2 separate regions of the Homo sapiens genome follow, and region 2 is linked to region 1. The links come from fine-mapping of genetic effects on gene expression. Tissue or cell type: tibial artery. Region 1 holds a variant in brackets; the other region holds the start of a gene. All regions are shown on one strand. Distances are from middle to middle.

Region 1 (4,242 bases):
AACCCATTAGGATTCTAGCCAAATAGTCCAGTTAGTCATGGTGATGATCTGAACTAAAATGATGGAAATATAGATAAAGAAAATATGGGTTCAACATTCAAGGACTATTTAGCAGGTAGAATAGACAGAACTTGACTATTCACTGGATGTCGTGGTGGTGGTGTAAAGAATAAAGAAAGAAGAGTCGGGATGATACCCAAATATGATAGCTCATTCCATTATGTGAATGTAGAAAGAGAAGCAAATTTGATTGTGGATAGGAAGAAGGAGAAAGGTAAGTTCAGTTTGGGTAATGTTGAGTTTGAAGTGTAAGTGGGACATTCAGGAAGAGGGAAGCAGGTGTAAGACCATGAGAAAGGTGGAAATGTGTAATATAGAAATAAAAATAATTAATCTGTAACTAATAGCAGAGGACAAGTGCAGAGAATTGTGAGAAGGGAAGGGGTGAAAGCATAAAATGTCTCTAACAGGTCAGCGTTCTCTACTCAGTTCAAAGGCATAAACAGAGAACCTTTTGCTTTTATTCCTGGAAATCTCTTGCCATTCCAACTCCTTGGCCAAGAATGGAGTTAAAGATTCCAGGTTAAAAAAAAAAGGGTTGGGGGGCACATTTGAGTTAGAAGTGGATGGATTTCTTCTAGCAAGCTTTTGGTCCAAAAGGAAGCTTTGGTCCTTTTGTGGCTGTTGGGAATTGAGACAGCACTTCTCTAAGGAGCCTTGAGGCATCTCTTAGGAAGAAAGATGGACATTTGTCCTTTGCCCACTAACTGGACCACTGGGTGTGGTCCTGACTCTTACTGGGTATGACCAAATGAAAGTCCAGGCTGCCTAATAACTTCAGGAGGGGACTAACTGCCTCCCTGCTAGGCAAAAATAATTCAATTATCCTTTACAAAATAAATAGCTAAAAGCTAATCACATACTTATAATTCAAACATAATGCTGGTACCTGAAAGTGCTACATTTCATCAATCCTATCACCTCAACTTGTACCTAAGGCCCATAGGCTTTAACTACTTTGGTGGACAGTCTGGGAACCAAAGAAAGAAAGTCTTGTCATAAAATATTATTTCCTTTGTGGAGGGGAACAGTAGTGGGGAACTGACAAAGGAATCTAACAAGACAGAGGCCTGGTATATTTAAATATAGGTAGAATTGGAAGACTTTGAATTTTGTATGTTTTTTCTGTATGTTTATATATTTGTAATAACAATAAAAATACTCAATTGTTCTTATGTAGTAACTCTATGAAATTATGTACTGTTGTAAAGTGGCTTACCATTTGCATTTGGAAAGAACATTTTAATCTCTTTGAAATTAAAATGTTAAATCATTTGTATGTTAAATGTTAAAAATGACCAAATGGGTTTAGCATCCAAACAAAAATATATCGCAGAATGTTGTACAGCAACTTGAAAGCTGTTGCCTTGTTACTGCTGTGAAAATTTATATCCTGTCATACTTGTTATGGTTTCACATAATAGGATGAGGAGAGGCTGTGCATTTCTAGCATCTATCCAGACAGAAGGAGGTAGCATATATCTTCTAACTATATAAAGTCATATATTTTTTATTTTGTCTGAAATAAAATTCCCATTTTTATCTAGAATCCTTTCTTTTTCTCAAATTGCACTCATATATAATGCCTGGCATATATTAGGCCTTCAAATACATAGATATCTGTTTGTACTATATTTTAGCATCACTATTTTTATGGGGAAGAGTCAGAAATCTGTGCATGCTCTACAAAATCCAGCTTTTCTCAGACAAGCAGAGAACTGAGGAAAATCATTCAAATGTTTTGATGCAATGAACCAGATGATTTCAATTTCAACTAATTACTTCAACTCACTTCTTCACTATAGTTGGGTAGTCTAAATTTCTGTTTCAAATGTACAGCTTTTGTACAGCTTTCATATTTTTGCAAAGTTGCCTTTTTCAGTGATTTTTAAATCTTTAGTTCCCATTTCACTTCCCATTTACCATTTCAGTCTGAAACTGTAATACTGTTTCCACAGTTACAAGCCTCAAGTTAATCATGCCTCTGGGAATTGAGTTCTGCAGTGTGTACACAACCCCCTTGAGGGGGCTTGTGGGTTCCCAGCATAGACAATTGGCTCCAAATCCTGCCTCTGGGGATTCAGGCACACTGTGT[G/A]CCAGCTCACCCTGCCTGACAAACACTGCTGGTGAGACAGAGGTTACTCATTCACCATTTGAGAAAACTAAGGAATCCATCTTTGGCCTTGCAAGGGAAGGGTAGTAGACAGAGTCTCCAATACAGTGTCTCATCTTTAATGGCAGCTTCTGTAGTCTGGCAGAGATGAAAACAGGCCACGGATGAAAGGAAGCCTCTGTTTCTCAGGATGACCAGGTGTACTGAGTTTTTCTAGTCTCCCAGGTATGCCAGGTAGATGCGTATATTGTGCTTAACAGTATAATGCTACTTTCCTGATCACTGCATTTCCAAATCCTACTTGTCCTTTAAGGTTGGCTTCAAGTCTTACTTTCTGCATTAAAACATTCTGTTATATAATGGATGCATATTTAGGCTATTAAAAATACAGAAAATAATGTAGCAAACACTTGTGTACTATTAGATGCTTTTTATTTAATAAAAACATATTACTCTCTAGAAGAAGATAACATTCTGTTAAGAGAGAAGCCACTTTCTTCAGGTCTAGTAGGAATTGCTTTCTGTGACATGCTGAGAAATTAACCTGGAACAGAAAGATCTATTTCAAATTGTGTCTGGATTCATGTACCTCTTTTATTTTTGCCTCACCAAGACTTTACCACTGCCTTTACCCATGATATGCTCCATCTGCCAAGCCACCTCTGGAATAGAATTATGCTTCTAATGGACCTTCCCAGCCTCCCAAACAGCTCTCCAACCAGGAATGAACACCCAGGGAACCAGTTGAACTTCCTACTTGTATTGACTCAGAGCCTAAAAGAAAACAGAAGAAAATGTGCAAAATTACTAAGGTTCTTGGTCAATTCTCTGGCTACAAGTTAGCAGCTTCTTTCCTCAGAATTCTGACTTTCTCCTCGTTAAAGGTGGAATTACATCCCACCTCACCACCACCCCAGAATTCATATGTTGAAGTTCTAGCCTTCCAGTACCTAAGAATGTGACCTTATTTGAAAATAAGGTTGTTGTAGGTGTAACAAAAGTTAACAAGAGGTCTTATTGGAGTAGGGTGGGCTCCTAATCCAATATAAGGAGGCCCTTATAAAAAGGGAAAATTTGGACACAGACACTCAGAGGGAAGACGTGAAGACACAGGGAGGAGAAAGCCAAGTGATGACAGATGCAAAGATTAGAGTAATATATCTGTAATCCAAGGAATCCCAAGGATTGCTGGCAAACACCAGAAGCTAGAAGAAGCAAGGAAGGATTCTCCCCTACAAATTTAAGAGGGAACATGGCCCCACTGACACTTTGATTCAGACTTCCAGCCTCTAGTATGACAAGACAAGAAATTTCTGTTGTTTTAAGCTTAAAAAAAAATAAAGTAAGATAAATTTTAAGAAATTTTAAAGTGTTACTGATTGTGTTTGATATAGCTTTCTATATACTCCAACATCATTCTTATTTCTCCTCCCCAGAAGCAAATTGTTGCCTATTACTGGGCTCTCTTAGGTAGTTTTTTTCAATGATTCTGCCCTTTTCTGGATCTTAATTTTTCACAAGGAGTCCAGTTAACCTAAATTAACCAAATCTTAGGGCCCCTACCTCCATGCAAGCATTGAGAGACCCTAAGGTGGAAATGCAGGCTGGAGCTTTAGCTGGGCCCATCATCTTGACTGGGAACCCTATACCTCTTTTGACTTTCCAAATTCTCTCTGATTCCTATAGCATTGAGCATTTAATCCAGTTTCCAATCACTTATTTATTACCTACTTGCAGGTACAAAATAGAGAATATACTTGCAGGTAAAAAATAGAGGATATATTATGGTATTTCCTTTTGAGACTATAAATCCTTGAAACAGTATTAATCTCTTTTTAAAGCAAGCTGAGGGAAGTTCCCCTAAAGAGTTCCTACTCTATAGGAGATTGCACATGTAAACCAATCTCGTTATTAGAGAAGTGTGTACTCAGAAGTATGCCTAGCTTTACAGAACAGGTGATGTTGCAGCCATTCAATAGTTATTGATAGCCTACTATGTTCAAATTAGTGAATTAAGTATTATAAGAATAAAAGAAATGCATAAAGATTTGGTTTCCCTACCTTGAGTA
Region 2 (4,242 bases), 150 kb before region 1:
AGCCAATTAGTGAAAAAGTGAATTGAAGCCGTTACAAGTATGATATTAGATTGACTCACATAGGAATATGACCTTTTTCGTTACTTTATCATTTCTAAGTAAATTAATAATGAATGTCTAGTCACCAAAATTACAGCCCACTCAGGGTTATTTTTACCATGCTGAACTAACTATTCTAATGATATATCCAGCCAAATTGGAAATTGGAAATTTTTGCTGCTAACGGAATTTTCATGCATAGTTTAACAATTCAGCTACCTGCAGCCCTGAACAAAATACATTGCCAGCAGGATGCTTTTTGGCAAAGTCATAGTCAATTATAATAATGGGAATTTTAAATGCCCCACCAATAAATGTTGGAATTATCTGTGGAAAAGGAAGGGGTTCAGAACATTACTGCAGCATTGTTTCATTACCATAAGTAAGTATATTTTATTCTTGGAGATCTATGTAAGTTTGATAATTAGTTATTTTAGGAAACAAGAAAATAAGAAAAATAGACCTATTGTAAGTGGGATACAATTATTTTTCCCTAACCTCCAGCCCTGCAGCATTTCTAGTAACAGATGTTAGATGAGAAGAGTTATTCTTCTAAGCTTTACAGAATGCTAAATAAATTATCTCAAAGGTTGACTCAGTAAGAATTTCAAAGAGTTAATTGTCAGTATTGAACTTTGTCAACTATCATTTTCATTTATTCATTTTTGAGTATCTATTTTGCATGAGGCATTGCTCTAGGGAGTTGGGACATATCAATAAAGTCATCAAAGTTCTTCAACATTGGAGCTCAAATTCTGTTTTGCGGGGGGGAGTAGGGAAATAGATACTAAACAATAGATTTTATAAGTAATTATTTTGGTTTGTTAGAAAGTGATACGGGAAAAGCAAACTGGAGGACAGTGAATCAGGAATAGGAGAAGAGGTTGCAGCTTAGAGTGGTTTGGGATGAAATGATAGTGCCACAGAAATGGAGTGTGCCACACGCATGGGGGAGTAGGGGGTGGAGCACGTTGCTAGAGAGGGGCTAGACATGGAGATATGTCTCTATTTTCAGCAGAGAAGGCCTGTCAAGATATTAAAAGTACATCTCATTGTCCCCTTCTCCCACTTGTTGGAGTGCTTCCTGGCCTTGTCTCTCAGAGCTGAAGATGACATAAATCATAAAAGAAATAAATGGTACCGCCTGGGCTCTCTGATCTTATAAGGTCCCACCTAATTTAAGCTCTGGTGGATAGCCTATTTCCCATTAGTTGTCTCAATTCACAGAGGATGGAGAAAGAAAGCACTGAATGAGATGTGCAGCTCAACTCAATGGGCACTTGTTAGCCCCAATTATTTGGCTAGGACAACTTTATTCAAGTTAATGGAATACAAAACTCAGCAGTTCTTATGGAGACTTCAATGTGCTGTAGAACAAACCACAGATAAATGAACTGTCTGAAAGAATAATATGAGGCACGGCTAAACAAGTGTTGTGGAAGAGAAAGATCACTGTAATCTAGAGTTAGTTAGAGTTAGGGCTTTCTGGAAAAGTGAGACCAACATTACACCTTCGAAAACTAGTGTGGTGGTGGTGCAAGTGGAGGAAAATGGGAAAGAGGCAACAGTGTCCATAAAGACACAGAGGCAGAAAGGGCAGAGGCCCTGGGATAGTTAAAAGAGAAGTCTAGCTGAGGGACTTCTTGACTTGACTAGCAGCAATTAGCCATGACTAATAAGGCTTTCCACACTCCAAAGACTTAGATGGAGGGATAAAAAACCATCTAATGGCAGACTGTGGTAGCCTCCCTAGAGACACAGAGCTGGGCCGGATGAGTCCAGGCACTGACGTGATCCATTATCTTTCACCTTAAAGAGTAAAAGGGAAACTAAAGTTAATTACCTCCACGAAACAAAAAGGTGCCTTCTTGTGCTTCAATTACATGGATATATTCTACTAGTCTAAAAGTATCTTCTCACTTCTTTCTGTCACTGTGAGGACTTGAGTCAGAAGAAAGTTTAAATACAGTCATTGAGCTGGAAAGAGTGGAAAGAGAAGCAAAGAGGGGGAAGCTGTAGGAAGGACGAAGTCACCCCCAAGATACATGGTTACTGCTTACACCAAGCAAGCTGCCTTGGGAACGCTTCCCCCGAGCAGCCAGAATGCTCAGCAGTGGAAGACACCTCTATTCCTGTAGGCGAGTCCTGGGAAGCTGGTCAATCTGCAAATGCCAATTCCCAGCAGTGAGCTCGGTCCACGTGTAAATCAAGATTTGGGGAAAGAGTAGGGTGGGTGGCATGGTTGACAATGTCATCAGCTCCCTCCTCTGACTCCTGTGGTCGTGCCCCCATCTACTCTCACTCAGCTACACCCCACCTTCGGATTTGTGATGGACGCTGGGTCCCTAGTAACCACAGCAAGTGTCTCCCCCGCACTTCCCCCTTCCCCACCCCCACCCCCACCCCCAACCACCACCCCAGCGATGGAGCCTACTCTGCTCCAAGCCGCCGCTAAGACCCGGAGAAGCGGAATTTCACTTTGAAATTCCCTTGCCTCGTGAGGGCCGGCGCTGGGCATGCTCAGTAGCCGCGGCGCTGCTGCTGGGCTGCTGGGCTGGCGCGGAGTCCACCCTGCCGTCTCCGCCTTGGCTTCTGGGCGTCCAGAAGGCCAGGCATTTGCCGCCTCTGAGCGCTTCTGTTCCCCTTACCCGCAACCTCCTACTGCTCTTCCTCTCTCCCTCTCTTAGGGAGGTTGAAGCTGGTGCTGGTTTCTGTCGGCGCCACAGACTGACTGCTCTGCAAACCCCAGCCGAGGACCTGAATCCCGGAGACTAGAAGACCCTTGGCGGTGGCTCTTTCTAATAGCACTTTACCTGAAGTGGGGTCGTGGTGGAGTTTCTCCTCCACCTCTCAATGCAAACACTATGCGGAGAGCAGTCTGCTTCCCTGCGCTGTGCCTGCTCCTTAATCTTCACGCTGCAGGTAAGGGGTTGCCAGGCTTAGAGCCGGAGCTGTGCATGAGATGGGAAACTGCACATGCTTAAGGACTCTAGGAAAAGCTTGCCTTGCGAAGAAAGCCTTTCTAAAAAGGTAAAACAGGACAGTACCTGACAGGGAAGGGGTGAGGGAGTCGTGCACCTGTTGGAAAACTGAGGCCGAAAACTTAACCTAAAATTAGCTCTTGATTTTTCTTTACTTTATACGAAAATAGTGAACATTTTCAATATGAATACAGGTTTGCTCCCCCCTTCGCCTCCCCTCCGTCTAGATTCCCTGCTCTTGTTTCTAGGCTATGCACTTAACTGTCAATTTTTCAGGAGAGGGATAAGACATCCTGCTAGATGTAACCTTTTCTACTGCAGCGGCTACTACATTCATAAGGTCTCTTGGTCTAGCGAGCGCTCATAGGAAGGCATTGGCTGTAACCTGATGGACCACATCTCCGCCCAAAAGATCGAAATACATGGTTCACATTAGTGATGCTGCACCAGGCTCCTTTGGCCCCTGCTCTTGTCACTCGAATTTTCTAAGCCAATAAGAGGAAGAAAAGGTTTCAAATAGAATCCTCTTGTCTCTTTCAGCACCGTGGCTAGCGTCCGCTGGCATATTAAAAAAAAAAAAAAAAAAAAAAAAAAAAAAAACAATTACAGTTCCAAAGCTGACAACCCTGGGTTAGGCACTGTCCCTCGGACAGATTTGATAAGGTGTAACCAAGAGTAACAGTGAGACTGCTCCCAAATATAAATAGATTTGAGGCACCAGAATCAATATCAAGTCTCGTGAGGAAGCAAACCTTGGGAAGTACCTGAGAGATATTATATGTGGTGTCCCTGCTTTTTGCATACATAGCACCTCTATTTAATGCAGACAGACTTGCTAGGCTGAATTCCTTATCATTGTCACACACACATGAACCAAAATAAAATATGGCAGGGAGATTTTAGAAACCCTACTGTGACAGCAGTTGTCCATGCAGTAGTCCTGTAACAACCAGAGACGAGGCATTTTCCCTGAGTGTGCTTCTCATCCAATCACACATATCCATTCATTCCTTCAAGCAACATTTGCTGAGTGTATACTATGTTCTAGGGGTAATGAGTAAAAATAATTGTTCTGAAATTACAATCCTTGCAGTATCTTTTTTAAAAGAGTGGGTGAATTTTATTCTCTGTGTACAATAGTAGGAGTGAAATATGGTACTTTCTTATTCCAGCTAACGCTATTATTTAAATGTATCATGAATCTTTTGAGCAAATAATGCAT

Evidence for each region. PIP is the estimated chance that this variant, and not a neighbour inherited with it, causes the effect. A credible set is the group of variants that fine-mapping cannot tell apart.
Region 2: PTPRR starts here. The variant in region 1 is the best candidate, but not a certain one, in a credible set for the expression of PTPRR in tibial artery (GTEx, PIP 0.51).

Annotation. Positions count from the first base shown.
Region 1 is chr12:70,772,142-70,776,383 of GRCh38, reverse strand. All of the region lies in intron 2 of PTPRR (protein tyrosine phosphatase receptor type R), which reads left to right. It overlaps LOC124902960 (a long non-coding RNA gene), which reads right to left. Exons shown (of 2, transcript XR_007063361.1): 2 at 2,587-2,947. Among named protein-coding and RNA genes, the nearest start is that of PTPRB, 140 kb to the right of the region's middle. The variant G/A (reference allele first, on the strand shown) is at 2,156.
Region 2 is chr12:70,919,052-70,923,293 of GRCh38, reverse strand. PTPRR (protein tyrosine phosphatase receptor type R) reads left to right here and starts at 2,556. Exons shown (of 14, transcript NM_002849.4): 1 at 2,556-2,961. The coding sequence starts at 2,904.